Regions from separate parts of the Homo sapiens genome. Here region 2 is linked to region 1. Evidence: fine-mapped expression QTL. Tissue or cell type: aorta. Region 1 holds a variant in brackets; the other region holds the start of a gene. All regions are shown on one strand. Distances are from middle to middle.

Evidence for each region. PIP is the estimated chance that this variant, and not a neighbour inherited with it, causes the effect.
Region 2: PALLD starts here. The variant in region 1 is fine-mapped to the expression of PALLD in aorta (GTEx, PIP 0.95).

The regions. Positions count from the first base shown.
Region 1 is chr4:168,829,308-168,834,460 of GRCh38, reverse strand. All of the region lies in intron 10 of PALLD (palladin, cytoskeletal associated protein), which reads right to left. It overlaps LOC124900809 (a long non-coding RNA gene), which reads left to right. Exons shown (of 2, transcript XR_007058361.1): 1 at 1-1,724; 2 at 2,745-2,935. Among named protein-coding and RNA genes, the nearest start is that of CBR4, 180 kb to the left of the region's middle. RefSeq lists an enhancer at 1,918-2,778. The variant T/GCTGCAGCGGGCT (reference allele first, on the strand shown) is at 2,360.
Region 2 is chr4:168,494,619-168,499,771 of GRCh38, reverse strand. It overlaps PALLD (palladin, cytoskeletal associated protein), which reads right to left and starts at 2,720. Exons shown (of 22, transcript NM_001166108.2): 1 at 2,578-2,720. The region is part of intron 1 of LOC107986198 (a long non-coding RNA gene); the gene reads left to right.

The DNA.
Region 1 (5,153 bases):
GGCCTATTGTTACCTTTAAAAATATTAAAAGTCAACTAAAAACTATCTAGAGCTCATAAGGATCTACTGAAGCAACACTAAGGCTACTATGAGTAGGACACCTGTTTATTGTTTACTAAGTCAGTGGTCCTCACCTGGGACAGACTGGGCCTGTCGTTATTACATTATTTAAAGCAGGTGAGCTACCACACCATCCCAGCTATCAGAATTTTATGATTCATGAATTCCAACAATCACAATAAAAATAAAGCTGCATTATTTCCAACCATCCCCCATGCTCCTCACACAGGGCACCAAGTTTTCACATAGCCAGAGATGGTGTGGATGTTGGCATATTTTGCTACTTGCTGTACATGCCCAGTTTCTTAATGAATGCGGTCACTGGGAAACCAACCCCACTCCTTTTTCTAATGACAAAGTACAAGAATCAGTAAAAAAAATAAGTAAAGCTTAGGGATTGGGGGAAAAACTGTTTATTATCTAGCTCTTGTCTATCTCGTATGTTTATGGTTCAAGGATGTGCTATTTATTAACTGCCTCCCTCAAGTTATAAATCTTACACTCACACAAAGGCATAGGGGTACATTAGCTTCAAACTATCTCCTATATCCATTGATCTAAACAGACATGGGGAAAATCAAATTAACTCAAACCTCTTATCTAAATCAAAGTCTGCCAAGTCTGAAGGGGGAAAAAAATTGTTTTGGGGGGATGTGAAAAAAAAAATAGCAAGAAAGATGCTGTCTTTCTAGAAGCAACCCAAACCCAAATCCCTGGACAATTCTCTGGCTATCTTTTCCTTAGGTAGTGGGAGTTAAGGAGACAGTCCTGACAGGAGCCTGCATAACACAAATCAAGAAATTATCCTCACAGCCAAGGCTGGTGACACCATTCCTTAACCTGGCGGAGGGGAGCTTTTCAAGGCTTATGAACCAGGATCATATTATTCCATGTCTCTGAAGCTTGGGTCGGTCCCTCTGTCCTTTTCTCGTGCTAGTTTCTCTGTGATTACGCATTAAAATGTAGAGCCAGTCATCTCTGGCTCCTAGAGACTCCCAGGTTGATGAATGCACACCCGTCCTGGAATTTCGCCTGAAGACCAGTAACGGGACTCGGTGTGCCCGGGCCTGTTCGGGGCACGCAGCGCAAGACCCGGCTCCGCAGGGTGGGAAGATGCCCGAGCCCAGGGAGACCCGACCGAGACGCCCCCTCTCCTGCCCAGCGCGCCCCCTTCCGTCCCCAGCAAGAGAGCAAAGGTCCCAAGCCTCAATCCGGGCTCAAGCGACCAAACCCCTTTCTAGAGTCTGGACCACTCACCATTCGGGACAGAGCTGCCCCCAAAAGTTAAAATGAGACAAACGGGCGGGAAGCCCCCAGCCCCGGGGCGGGGCCGGCCTAGAGCCCTGCGCTCCAGCTTTGGGAGCTCACCCAGGCCCGGGGAGGGCCAGCCTGGCTGCTCACGGGACCCTCCCTTGTTGGCCCGGCCGTGGCCGGGAACCCACGCGTGGCCGGTGCGCGCTGCCAGTGCTGCAGCTGAGGTTCGGGTTCGGCCCGCGCCCGGCGTGAACAAAGCGGCTGCCAAGGCCTGGGACTGAGGGGACTGAGCCGCCGGCTCCACGCCGCCCCCAGGCCCAGAAGAAACACCGACTGCGGGCCGGGCACAGCACCCGGCCGGGGAAAGGACGCCCCGAGTTACGCGCAAACTTCCTTTGAATGGCGCCCAGGTGGGGTGAACCATCCCAAAGAAAGGAGGATGGGCTTGGGAAGGGAGGGCTCGGCTCAGGTCGGGGGGACCCCTCCGTCCCCACCCTCTCCCCGCCAGCTGCCAGGGAATGATGTCATCGCCTCTCCCGGCCCTCACCCCTGTCTCTGCCAGCCCCGCTTTCTCTGCTCTCCCACCCCAGGTCTGACCCCTCAGGGAGCGTGGCCAAGATTAAGAGAGGGGCGGGGGGCCGTGGGGGTGCGAGGTGTTCAGAGAAGAGTTAGGAGAGCGGGAGGGATCGTCCGTGGCAGCAGAGCATCTTCTCCCGTCTGGGCCCTGCCAAGATGATGCAGACATTCCTATCTGGAGCTCCGCTTTCAGGGATCTGTGCTCCCGCGGGCCGGGGGAGGGAGAGGGCTCGGGAAGGAACCGGCCGGGTGGAAAGTGCGCTGACGAGTCTCTTGTCCTCCCCGCCCCCACCCTGTCCCGAGCCCTGCACTCCCGACTCGCGGCCCACCCTGCACGCTGCACTCCCTTTAATTCACACATTTCTTCCACCAGCCTCAGGGCCGATTCCCCGCGCCTACCTCGGCTCTCCGGGCCGCCTCCCGCTGCTGCCCGATTCCGCGTCCGGAGCGAGCGGGAGCTGCAGCGGGC[T/GCTGCAGCGGGCT]CCGCGGACCGGGCGCGGGGCAGGTATCGGGCTTTATACCTCGCCCGCCGGGTGACTCAGGAGGCTCCGAGCCTTCACCCGCCGCCCTTCAAAATAAGAGTCCGGCGGCGCGGCGGGCGGGAGAGAGGAGGCGTGGCTCGCAGCTCTGGGACGCGGCCCCCAGGTTAGGGAGGCTTCCCCGCACCCACTCGTAACCTTGTCCCGCCCTTTGCATCTTTCTGGTCGCAGGCCCCTTCCTGGGGCAGCCAAGCTACAAATCGGGCTTTCCTGGAACGATCGAGAAGTGCTAATAACGGGAAAGAATTTAAGTTTTTTAGGCCCATAGATATGTTGTCGGCTTGTTAGGATGATTCTCCTCCGGTGTTTGTGTTTTTTTCCTTTACAGACTAAAGAGTGTCCAATAAACGCGACTCCAGGGCAGCGTTTTAGGGGAAAGCAATAAAAACTCACGGTAGAATGGAAGCTGCCCTGAAGGAATGGAACTGCGAGACTGGGGCTGGGACTGGGGCTGTGGGGAGGGAAAGCACATACAGTGTAAAAACGATTGTGTGACATTAAATCGAAAAGCACAAATCATCATGCAGTATATTTCTTTTCTAAGAAGAGGAAGGATAATTTTTAGATTTCCATTAATTAGTTTACTGGGTTCTGTGTAATAAAAAGCTAAATTCAGGAGCCCTTAGGGTGAGAAGAGTAAAGCATTTGATCTAGCAACATCTGAGGAACCCGGTCCCTATCCTATCCTGTGATCCTCTTAGCTCATAAACTACTGGAGGCCCTGAGTCACTTATTTTAACGCTCATCTACACAGGAACTTCTGTAGAAGTGTTTTCAAAGAGGAACTGGACTCATTCGTTCCAGAATTAATATTCTATGCAAAATTTGTGACAGATTGTGGGCTTAGCCCTAAATCCAGATCACCAACTTTTCTTTCACCAGATCAGCTAAGGACACCCCTGGCTCTGTGTATAATCCTCCAGTAGCTGGGTTGGCACACCATGTCACAACAATTTCTGTCTTCTTTCTCCTTCCAGAGTGTGCTCCTTGGCCACTGGGACCAAATCTTTCACACACAATAAGCTGTTAACAAAATGAATGCATGAATGAATGAATGAATGAATGGTAATATCTACCATTTACTGAACTTACTGTTGTGCCAGGCTGTTTCGGTAACGTGGTCACTCAGTAACTGCCAATAAATGCTAACTAGTTTTGAATAGCCAGTAGACCACTTGTTTAAAGGGTTTAGTACTGTAACTGTATCCTGCCGTCATTACTGATATCTAACACTAGCATTGCTAGGTTCACTGTCTTCAGCCAGGTAGTCTATTCCTCTCTCGGAAATATCTTTATTGACTTTTAAATGAATAACGATGTCTGTAAAATATTAAAAACCAAATATTGTTCTTTAAACAATAAACCAAAATTGAATGTCCCTGTGATTTTACTCCCAGAGATAAATTGTTAGCTGCCTAAAATATAGTCCTCCAGGCTTTTGGATGTGTATTTAAACACACACTTAAAATAGCTTAGATAATTGTTTCCATACAATTTTGTAACTTTTTTTTTTTTGAGACAGGGTCTCACTCTGTTGCCCAGGCTGAAGTGCAGTGGTGCAGTCATGGCTTACTGCAGTTTTGACCTCCCAGGCTCAAGTGATCCTCCCACCTCAGCCTCCTGAGTAACTAGGGCTACAGGCACGTGCCATCATACCCAGCTAATTTAAAACATTTTTTTTTGTTCAAGACAACGTCTCGCTATGTTGTCCAGGCTGGTCTCAAACTCCTGATCTCAAGTGATCCTCCCACCTCGGCCTCCCAGGCGTGACCACCGCACTCAGCCTATAACTTTTTTTTTTTTTTTTTTTTTTGAGACAAAGTCTCACTCTGTCACCCAAGCTGGAGTGCAGTGGCGTGATCTCGGCTCACTGCAACCTCCACCTCCTGGGTTCAAGCGATTCTCCTGCCTCAGCCTCCCAAGTAGCTGGGATAACAGGCGCCTGCCACCACACCCAGCTAATTTTTGTAGTTTTTGTAGAGATGGGGTTTCACCATGTTGGCCAAGCTGCTCTTGAACTCCTGACCTCAAGTGATCCGCCTGCCTTGGCCTCCCAAAGTGCTGGGATTATAGGCATGACCCACTGCACCTGGCCTGTAACCTATTTTTTTTAACCTAATAATATACTGACCATAGTCATCTTTCTGGGGATAATACAAAGCATTATCATCTCTTGCATTTTTGAGAGGGTGATAGACCAACAATTCATTGTCCTGGAACACAAACTTTAAAGAGTGAAAATCACTTTGCCTATTCTAATATTTCTAACAGTATTTCCCTGTTTAGCTTCACCTTTCTTTGAATTCTCAGCTTGTTTACGCCCATGTCAAAGGGCCCTTAGGGCTGCAGCAATGACATCACGTGGCCTGCAGCAGGGTTTTCTTGCAGGCTGTGATGGGACACTGACTAAAGAGTGCCACCAGATGAGAGTTAGGACGTGTGATCTGTGCCATTAACTGTGGGACTCTGAAGCTTCCTTATTTCCACAATAATGGGATTAATCTGATGGATTTTTAAGTTACGCTTCTTAAATTTTATGATTTTATGATTTAGGAGTCCTTTCACAACATAAAGAGCAGAAAGAATAAAACAGATGTCTGATATTACCACCTGTAGTGTTTACCGGCCATGGAAGGGACTGTGGGGTAGAATAGACTTGGAGAGTTGATTGGCTGTGAGAAGACATACGCACTTCCTTTACTCTGAGGAGACAGCAAAAGAAGGATGATCCATTAGA
Region 2 (5,153 bases), 330 kb after region 1:
ATTCCCATAGTCATTTAAAAATGTATACATAGATAGGAATAAATATATGAAAATGGTTGGAATAACATACACCAAACAATCAACACTGACCTCTGTGGGGGGATTTAGGCAGGGGTAGGAGTTGAAAGGTGGGACATGCAGGGGGATCTTTTGTTGCTTATTTTGTAATTTTTGAAAAAAAGTTATAAGTGATTTTTAATTTTAGGTTTAGCAGTTTTATTTTCATATTTAAGCAATTACTAAAAAAGTAATGCAAACCATTGATACAAATATTAGATATTGAAATATCTTTTAATAAAACCTAAACTATGAAAACCAAAGTTAGAAAAGCTTTAACACTTAATTTTCATGCTTCAGAATCACAGGCAACCCCCCTAGACTAAATCAATAAAGTCCCTCCCTTCCTCCCTCCCCCCTCCCTCCCTTCTGCCTCCCTTCCCCCTTCTTCCATGTCTCCCTCCCTTCCTCCCTCCCATCCTCCCTCCCATCCTCCCTCCCATCCTCCCTCCCTTCCTCCCTCCCTTCTCCCTTCCTTCTTCCCCGTCTCCCTTTCTTTCTTCCTTCCTTTTTTTTTTTTTTTTTTTTTTTTTTGCTACAAAGGGTCCTTTAGGGCAAAAGTCAAACACGAAAATTTTATGAAATTTTATGTTTGATGCAGAAAATGCACTACAATTTTATAATTTATTTCTTAATAAATACACATGGATTATTTTCCTTTCTAATTATTAAATTGTCAATGCAGGCAGATATATTTATCCTACAGTTTTAAATATCTCTTTAAACAGCTTATTTAATCTCAATTTCAAGGACATAATCTAATAGCTCATTTAATGCAGAAACAGCCAAATAAGATACTTTACAGAGTTTTTGAAGTTATCCCATGTCCTGTTCATCTTATCAACTTTATTCACCATACTGAGTCCATTGCAAATATTTAGATTTTACTTCTGAATTATCCATTTCCATTACCATTATCCAATTCAGGGCTTTATTCTTCTCACTTAAATTCAAAACCTATTTACCAAATTTGCTTCTATATTCTCTAATATGATTTAACAGTTAGAAATTTTAGTCGAAGATACTTTGTTCAATCTTTGTTTTCTTTGCTGTAATTTCACCGGGACACAGTCATTAACTCTAGATGGCCTGAATTTCTAACTGGAGCTCAGTAATTGCAATACCCTTTGACAGCCTCCACACACATATTGTTTAAGAAGTGGAGCTCTTGTCTGGGCCTTGCAGATTCCACTTGGTATCTCTTAAAGAACTTGTCATATTTATTTTTAAACCTGAATAATGATTGCCCTCTACATTTTTAAAAAATGAGGTAAGGAGGTCAAAGTGATTGTACTTGTCCAGTGCAATCCAGATCCTCATTCTATTGTGAAATATGCTATAAGGCCAGTTTTAATATTCAGCTCTAGCAATAACAGAGAAACCCAGAGGAAGAGCTGACACAGAACCCCTGGGATACAGACCCTAATCCATACCAGATTCTAGGATGCCAGAGGACTAATTTATATTCTAGGAATGTGTAATCATGTATTTACAGGGCAGTTAGTGGCCAGATAAACCTCATCGGCCTTTTCTGCTGTTAGCAATAACTTGTCAAAGAGACTTTGATTTTAAAAATCTGAAAAAAAAATCTGAATAATTGAGGTGAGTATTCAAGTTCTTTCTGTGAGAAAAAACATTGGAAGGCACATTTATCATGAAATGAGGATTTAATTTCTGCATATATGTGATTGAATAGATTTGTAATAGTTTTATATTGCCAAGAAATGGCTTTATATGTCACCACATTATTCATACTAGAAGGCAATTAGTATTTTTAGCAAATGTTAATAAGTAATATGAGCCTGAAATCATTTTATGTCAACCTCCTATATTGGATTCAAGACAATTTCATGTGCAACTTAAAACAACATGATAAAAATTATTCTGTGATGTTTAAACTTGACTGGACTCGAGATTGCACTGTGGTTTCCCTTAGTAAGCGTTATCTTATTAAAAATATGTATGTAAATTTTATGCATGAATATAATTTAAAATACCTGCTGTTACTATCCCAACTCATTTAATTATGTCCAGTGAGTTACTTTTAGAATCTTTTGAAAGTGTAATTAACAATTTATAATGTTACTGAAATCTAAGGTCTATCACTTTAAGCCATCATCACTTATCTAGCTTAAATATGGGTGAGGGTCTAGAAAGCTGCGTTTTCCTTTTCTGTGAAACATAACACATACACGATCTTGACAAAAGCTGGCTCCATAAATACATTTAATCCTTTTGGAATTGATAGCACCATCTTAGCATGCTTAAGCTTATAACAGAAAGTGTAATTCTCTGACAGCAAAGGCAGAGATGAAGTGGGCAGGCAAATCTTACGTATTATCTGTTTTTGGCAAAACCGTAACATTCTCATTACGTTTCCTCTCCAAGCAAAAGAATAATTAAGGTATCTTGTAAATAGTATCATATCTTCAGAAAAACTTTTGTATTTTTAGTTTTTTTTTTTTTAAGTCCTTAAAATGTTGCCCTACTAGTTAGTATATTAAGATACACCTTACAGACCTTTTCAATGCTTGGTCAGTTTGAAGACTCCAGAGAGGTGATGAATTTCAGATGAGCATTTCTTCTTTTCTGGGAGAATGGAGGTTGTGGCCTTGCCTATTCATTAGAGACTGCCTGGTCCGTGGTCACTTTGAGGCAACTGTGGCCTCAGACTCTCATCTGTCCTCTTACTCCACTCAGCTATATTTGGTAACTGAGCTCATGTTTCAGCAGACTGCCACGATCAGGAATTCCAGCAGCGGGCTGGGAAGCACCCCCAGGACCGAGGGCTGGGTTCTTAGAAATAAAGCCACTTAACATAGAAGGAACTATATTTATGGATCTGATAAACGTAGGATTTAAACACATTCTTCTATACTTTGGACTTGTAGCTGGAAATCACCACCTGGACCTTTAACATGTTCTTAATCAATTTAAAGTACAGTATGTGACTCCAAGTAGAAAAAGTGATAATCCAAATGGAAGCTCTTCTTACTCTGATCTTCTGTTCTGTGCATTTAAATTTTGGTCATGTGCTAGATTACCCTAAAATAGTAAATTCAGTAACTGAAAATTTAGCCACCTGTCAAATTGAGTGGAAAGTCCCATTGTTCTCTTATTTCATATTGCTAATTAAAAATTGATATATGACTATGGTATGTATTAAAGGCCTTGTCTATAATAGTATTAAATAAGTATGAACACACAGGGACTGGATCTTATCCACATTGCAACATTGAGTTCTTAGCTCAATGCCTAGGACATCATGAGCATCTCTTAAATATTTGTCAAAGAAATAAATGAATGTTGAATGAATAATATTCAGGAAAAGTATCAACCCTCTTACAGTTGCAAAAAATGTTTCACAATCATTTAATATTTTGATCTTTCAAATGACAAATAGATATAGCAAGAGTTTAATATTTTGATCTTTTAAATAACAAACATAGATAGCAAGAAGAGAAAGCTTTTCTGTTTAAAGGTCAGGTAGCAGAATCAAATATAAGGGGGGCAAAAAGAGCAACACAAAAGCTCCCAGTTAACTTGGAAATGGGGTGCTGAGTCTTCCTTTGTCTGGGTAAGACCATCACATTTGATTCAGTTTAATATCTAAATATTTTTTCTTTTCTGATGTTAGAAAATTTGTGAAGGTCTGCTATTGTATTTTCTTTATAGGCCAAACTGGTCCTTTAGAAATGGTCCTTTCTGTGAGTGGATACTTCTGTGGGTCATTTCATCTATTATATTAATTAAGAAGTGATTTTAAAATTTATACTTACGGCTGGGCGTGGTGGCTTATGCCTGTAATTGCAGTACTTTGGGAGGCCGAGGTGGGTGGATCATGAGGTCAGGAGATTGAGACCATCCTGGCTAACACAGTGAAACCCCCTCTCTACTAAAAATACAAAAAATTAGCTGGGCGTGGTGGCGGGTGCCTGTAGTCCCAGCCACTTGGGAGGCTGAGGCAGGAGAATGGTGTGAACCCGGGAGGCGGAGCTTGCAGTGAGCCGAGATCCCATCACTGCACTCCAGCCTGGGTGACAGAGCGAGACTCCTTCTTAAAAAAAATAAAAATAAAAATAAAAAAATAAAATTTATACTTACAAGGAAATATAACTCTGATTGATTGTCTTAGTTTGTGTCATTATAACAAAATGCCACAGACTGGGTAATTTACAAAGAACAGAAATTGATTTCTCATAGTTCTGGAGGCTGGGAAGTCTAAGATCAAGGTGCCAGCAGGTTTGTTGTCTGGTGAAGTTCCTGTCTCTGCTTCCACAGTGATGCCTTGAGCACTGTGTCCTCACATGGCAGAAGGTGGAAGGGCAAGAGGGGGTCAAACTTCCTCCATCAAGCCCTAAGGGCATCAAATCCCATTCATGAGGAGTCCTCCTGAATCACCTTCTAAACGTTACACCTCCTGATACTGTTGCATAGGGGATTAGGAATCAACAAAAATTTTGAAGGGGACAAAAACCTTCAAACCATAGCATTGCTTAAACACATATTTATATCTGCTTTTTCCTAAAACCACAAGATAATAGTAAAAACTGAAAAGGGCAGAAATTGGGAGGGAAGACAATAGAAGATATCAGAAATGAACAAAATTGTTGGAAAGAGATAAATATAAGTATGCATGTAACTAAATTACAAAGCTTAAATGCCTGCAGGAGGAGATACAGAAAAGAAGCAAGTGATTCACCCCATGGAGTCTCAGAAAGGCTTGGGAATAGGAAGCAGTGAACCCATCTTTAGAAATAATTTTAATTGGCAACTCTGATTTTTGCCTCTGCCTTCTGGTGAACTGTGAGTCTCATGGTGAATTCCAGAGGCAATCATGTTGGACTACTGGCCAGACGAGGCCTCTCCCACATTTCTTTGGATTGCTTGGTTCCTAAATCCTGGTATAACACCAGTGAAGTGATGAAGCCATAAGAAGAAAAAAGAAAAAAAAACAGCTTGTGGTCCTGAGAGAGGCTTCAAAGATGGATATGACTTTACTCAAAAGGACACAGAAATGTGACCTTTTTGTGTGTGTATTGCAAATAGTGCAGCAAACCAAGCTTGTTTTAAAAATCTTATAAGAAGTTCTTTTC